Regions from separate parts of the Homo sapiens genome. Here region 2 is linked to region 1. Evidence: fine-mapped expression QTL. Tissue or cell type: whole blood. Region 1 holds a variant in brackets; the other region holds the start of a gene. All regions are shown on one strand. Distances are from middle to middle.

The links. PIP is the estimated chance that this variant, and not a neighbour inherited with it, causes the effect.
Region 2: LYVE1 starts here. The variant in region 1 is fine-mapped to the expression of LYVE1 in whole blood (TOPMed, PIP above 0.99).

Annotation. Positions count from the first base shown.
Region 1 is chr11:10,597,592-10,600,351 of GRCh38, forward strand. The region is part of intron 15 of IRAG1 (inositol 1,4,5-triphosphate receptor associated 1); the gene reads right to left. It overlaps IRAG1-AS1 (IRAG1 antisense RNA 1), which reads left to right. Exons shown (of 4, transcript NR_046375.1): 4 at 2,100-2,341. Among named protein-coding and RNA genes, the nearest start is that of LYVE1, 30 kb to the left of the region's middle. The variant C/T (reference allele first, on the strand shown) is at 1,491.
Region 2 is chr11:10,567,169-10,569,928 of GRCh38, forward strand. LYVE1 (lymphatic vessel endothelial hyaluronan receptor 1) reads right to left here and starts at 1,497. Exons shown (of 6, transcript NM_006691.4): 1 at 1,280-1,497. The coding sequence starts at 1,364. All of the region lies in intron 1 of IRAG1-AS1 (IRAG1 antisense RNA 1), which reads left to right.

The DNA.
Region 1 (2,760 bases):
AGCGATCCTTTCACCTTGGCCTCCCAAAGTGTTAGGATTACAGACGTGAGCCACTGTACCCAGCTACCTGTAACAATTTTAAGCTTATCTTAAAAAAATTGTCAGATCATTTTATTTTCCGAGGTTCTTAGGATATAATCCTATTGTTTTGTGTAACTGATGACTTTTGTTCATGATGAATTGTTTTCTTGTGTATTTTATAATTTTAAGTTGTGAAGTCATCTTCAGTGAGGCTTTATTAGAGGAATCCTGTGTGTCCAGATGCAGGGTCTGTCTCTCCAGAGTACTTTTCTGCTTATTTCTAACATATCTTAGAAGCACCATCTTGCTGTTCTTTTCAAATCCTCTGCATATTGCATCATCACTGCTGTCACTTTGTGAGCACGTACTTTCCCTATGAGGAAGGAGAAAGTGTTTTTTCCTACTACAGTCCAGGGTGAAACAAATTTCCTTGTTTCTCTGCTGGTTGGTGATTATTATTTTTCCTTATCCAAATTCCATCTGAGGATATAGTCCTTGGACGCCCTTAACTTTCTGTGGGAATCTGTGTCAACTCTCTACCATAGGTGTTCCAGGCCTTGTCTCAGACCACAGGCAAGTGCAAAAGCTCAGCTCCCAGATAACCAAGGCTGACACTTGTCCCTAAGGAAGCTGCAGGGTCAGCTTGGTTTCAGTTCTCTTTTCTTTTCTTGTATCTGGGTATTTCAATTTATTTTCTTGTGGATTCAGCTATTTAGACAAAGGTTTGCTTTATTTTGTCCAGCAGCAATTTCTAAGTGCTTGTGGTCAAAAGATTTTCAAGTTTTCCAGTCAGCCAAAATAGCAGAACCAGAAAATATTCTTTACATGTGAAGAGTTCATATAAATTAGTAAACTACCAAGCTTACAAGTGGCAAAGGTCATAAATACAGAATTTTTAAAAGCAGAAATACAAATGTTCCATAAACATTTGGAAAGGCCAAGAAATACAATTAAAACAATAAGACAAGACACAATTGTGGCCTATCAAAGTCATGGATATTTACAAAAAGAAAGAACAAGAATTGTGTCAATGGCACGGTGAATTGAGTATTGTAACCCATTCAGTGAAAACATAAATGGGTTATTTGAAAATAATTTGCTTTAAGAGCCTTAAAAAATTTATTTCCCCTGAGCTAGTATTCATACTTCTAGAAATCTACACTAAGGAAATAATCTAAAATGCAGATAATTGGTAAATTTCATATTCAGAAAGAAACATGTTATTTTTAAAAAATGTATATCACCTTCCTTGAAATCAGGGATATTTTATTTACTGCAGTCTTCAAAACCCCAGGCATAGACAAAGATTGCAGAGGTTGTATAAAGGCTTAAGACACAAACACTATTAGGGAACAGTCATAGAGTATCTTATGGAAACACCTGCTGAGTGGTTACGGCCACTCTGCCTAGCCCAAGCTGAGGTATAGCTTGGAAGAACAACTGGAGTGGAAACAAATATCAGAAAAACA[C/T]GTACAGCTATCGTTGACCTTTCCTACGGTAAGCGTTTTCTCATCCTCCTAGAGTGAATGTGGGACTCTGTGGTGTATTCTCCTCGGAAGTCTGCTTTCTTCTGTCATAGCACTGGCTACACTGCCTTGACTTCCCAAAGGTTGGGAGCTCCTTTGGGTCTGTGACTGTGTGCCCTTTACCTCTATATTCCAGTATTATATAGGGCAAACCAAAGGTACTCAATAAATGTCTGTAGAATGAACGAATGAGACTCATGGGTAACTGCTCATCCTATAAATCTTAGGTAAGGTGGTTTGCAGGAGGCCTTGTGCAGCAATAAATGCAGGAGTCCACGCATTAGGATTCCTTTGGCGGCAACTTCCTCAGCTTCCAACACTGACGGAAAATGGTTAGAGGCCTAGGTGCATGTGGGTCAGGAGCCTTGCTGACAGATCCAAAGCTGACAGTCTGGAGCATGTGTGCATGCTGCCTTTGGACTCTGGGACATGTCACTGATATTCTCCAGGAAACTTGTGAAACCTCCTGTTTATAAAGGTTTCTCCATCTGTTATACTTTCTGTACTTTCCCTTCTGCAGCTCTTGGTAACACGGATGTTTGCATTCCACAGGGATTCCTGTTGCTAAAAGGTCTGTTTTCTCCTGCTAGCCACCCTCATCAGCCAGAGTTCAAACCCTGACAGTGCCCATGGAGAGATCTGGTCCAAGGCACCAACCTCTTCCTGCTGGACTGAGAAAGAGCCTCCTACTGTGTCTCTCTTTACCTCAGCTTTTGCACACCTCCAATATATTGTCCACTGAAGTCAGAATAATCTAAAAATAAAGGCTGATTACCTCATGTGGTATAAACTTACCAATGACTCCCCGTTGCCTAGAGGCTCAAATTGCTAGCATGGCCTGGCGTGTGGCCCTGGTCAACCAAGTCTCACTTCCACACCCTGACACTGCCACTATGACAAACTGTTTGTTTCATCTTGTTTTCACCCCCAACCTCCACACCTTTGTCCATGCTGGTTTCTCCACTTGGGATGTGTCTTCCTCTATTGACTGGAGAACTCCTATTTTTACTTTAAAACACCAACAAGATACCATCCCTCTTTGAAGGCTTCTTTGTCTCCCTTCAAGCAGAATCAGGTGGGCCCTCCCCCGTGCTCCTATAGCAATTCGTATAGAACTTCTAAACAAGAGTATTTCTTTGAAACTTCTGTCTTACCCATGAGTCTGCTGTTTTTCTCCGTAACATCTCCTTCAGCCAGACTCTCACTCCACCCT
Region 2 (2,760 bases), 30 kb before region 1:
ATTGTATATACACACCTAGCTCTGGATCACTATATACTTGGCCCTCAAATATAGTTCCCACCCCTATTCACTTACCTTCATCAACTACTTTATTCTGCAGTCATGGTTATGCTGACTTTTGGTTGTTTCCAAAAATGTAATTTCCCTAGAAAATCTTTTTCCCTTGCTGAGGATAGTCCAGAGTGTGATGGAGTCATTTTCAAAAAACAGTGTCCAATAGTTTGAATAATGGCAGCATTGTGGGGAAAAATAGTCTCCCCAGAGGATTTCAAAGAGGACCAAACTTATTTGAAAGTAACAGTATTTTAAAAAACTAATCATATAACTCTGACCTTTCTTATAAAATGTAATGCAACAACATATAAATCAACTCTGAATGTCTGTTTCTAGCATATTTTATATCTCAGGTCATCTTCCAGCATAGGAACACACATTTTCCTATTAAAGTGCTCAGATTTTCATTTGCCCAGAGCTGCAATGAGTGATTTGTGGTTACAATTTTTTTGCCTACAGTGCAAAATGAGGTTTCCATTTAGGCATCTCAAAAGCCCAGCGATCACTTTAAGTCATTCCTTTAGTAGACAGCCGATGGCTTAATTTTCAAACTTATATTTTTACAGATTTTTTTCAGCTAATTTGCTATTTACTGAATATTTTTTTAAAACATTGCACCTCATTCATGGTATGATAAAATCAAAATTAAAATAATTATGCTAACACTCCCAAAAAACATAAAAACAGGCCAATTTTAGTGAAAGTTACCCATTATTCCCAAGCTTAGTGATTGCTTTAAATTTTTTACAATCATGGTTTGCGTCTTCAATGAAATACTTAAAAAAAAATTATTACTTCTGGATGCAGTGGCTCATGCCTGCAATCCCAGTACTTTGGTAGGCTGAGGCAGGACGATCACTTGAAGCCAGGAGTTCAAGACCAGGCTGGGCAACAAAGCGAGATCCCATTGCTACAAAAAATTTAAATACCACCCATACAAAAAAGAGTAAAAATCAAATGGTTTCTCTTCAGTGTTTTATTTCAAAATGTCCTCATTAAAAATATTCCATAACCAAAAGTAAAAGTCCAGATGATACAAACGTAAATGTCAATCATTTTGGTGAAGTTGACAATATGGTGGTACATTTTTGGCAGAGCAGTACCACCAATTAGACCTGCTGTTGACACTGAGGGTCACCCTCATTCCCAGAAATCCATAGTCAACAGCTTAGGAGGCTTAGGACTGAAGCCTTGCTTCAGTTTGGAAATCTGGTGAGAAACCTACCTTCTGCACGCAAAGAGCCTTGGACCAGGAGCCTCGTGGTCCAGATGGAAGTGAGAAGCAACACCAGGCTGAAGCACCTGGCCATCGTGCCTACCCCTTCAGAGCCAGGGAAACACCTCAGATGGCCACTGGTGATATGAGAGGCAGATGCTCAATAACTAGTCCGGATGGAGAGTTCTGGAACTATGTTGAGGCTCACACTCACTGCTCCACTTCATAACCGAGACATCCGGATTTCCCTGCTTTCAAGCTTCTGACTTGTCAAGGTCACTGGGGGAAATGAATGACGTCCCTTGAACGCCCAGGCTGTACTTTGTGGATGGCCTTCTGGAAAATTTAGCTAATGCTGACTCAGAAAACACACAAATGAGGAAGGCAGATAGCACAGTGTGAACTGCTAAAGGTTCTCCCAATTCCCATATTCCCTGCTGTTCCTCCTCCCCCAGCAGCTCAGTTCTCACACCATTCACTGTTACTGCCTGTGGAGTCCATCGTTTATGTACTCCTAGAAACATCTCTGTCCCTAAAGGAGACTGAGCATAGGTTGTGCCTCTTTTCCTCCCGCAATCAGTGATTTTTCCACCCAGCTGTTCGGCCTTGTGATCTGCAGGGTATGATGCTGAAGCTCATGAAAGTAAATGTCCACTTAAATACTGAGTCTAGAACCTTCTGCCTTCCTTTGAGTCTCCTTTTACACATTTGAAATCTCTACACCACTACAGGTGATTCCTTTTTCAAAGAAACCAGGCACATATAAACATTCACATTTACATAACACAAGTAGGAGGGCAATTTACAAAATTAAACATTTTACACTTTCCCCAAGGATTTTTAACTTTACAATAGTAATCACCACAGGGGTCTTTTATGAAATAACTTTCTCTTAATAACTCCTTTCATATTCTGGTAGGCCAGAATTCAAGTCAGACTCCACCTTTGTTGTTCGATGAACATGAGGTTTATCTGTGCTGTGTACCAGCAGAGTGTATTCTATGTTTTTCCAGCCGGATTTTCAGTGGTTTTTGCTTCATGGTAATTATGGAGTTCTGGCTTGTAAGCAATGTCTTGGGCAAAGGTTTATGAGATTTTTCCAAAATGAATGTCTTTTATAGGAAAAGTATATGGATAACGAATTCTTTTTTATATAAGTGGTACTGGTCATAAAGTTAGATATTTGTGTGAAAAATATCAATAACAAAAAGAGAATCTGCTCTAAACAAATGCAGGGAACTTCTAAAAGACCAGGGTAACAGCCCTTACACATCTCCAATACCGACCTCATGATCTGGGTGAGCACAAGCCCCAGTTTCTCAGAAACATGCATGACTCTATCATCACAGCACCAGGGAGGCAGACAGGCAGAGTCCTGGCCTCTTCATGATTATTCTTAAAGCCTAACACCATGCCCGAAAGAGAGCTAGCTTTCTAGCATTTGTTCACTTATTGCAAAAAGAACGAAGGAAGACAGGAAGGGGAAGAAT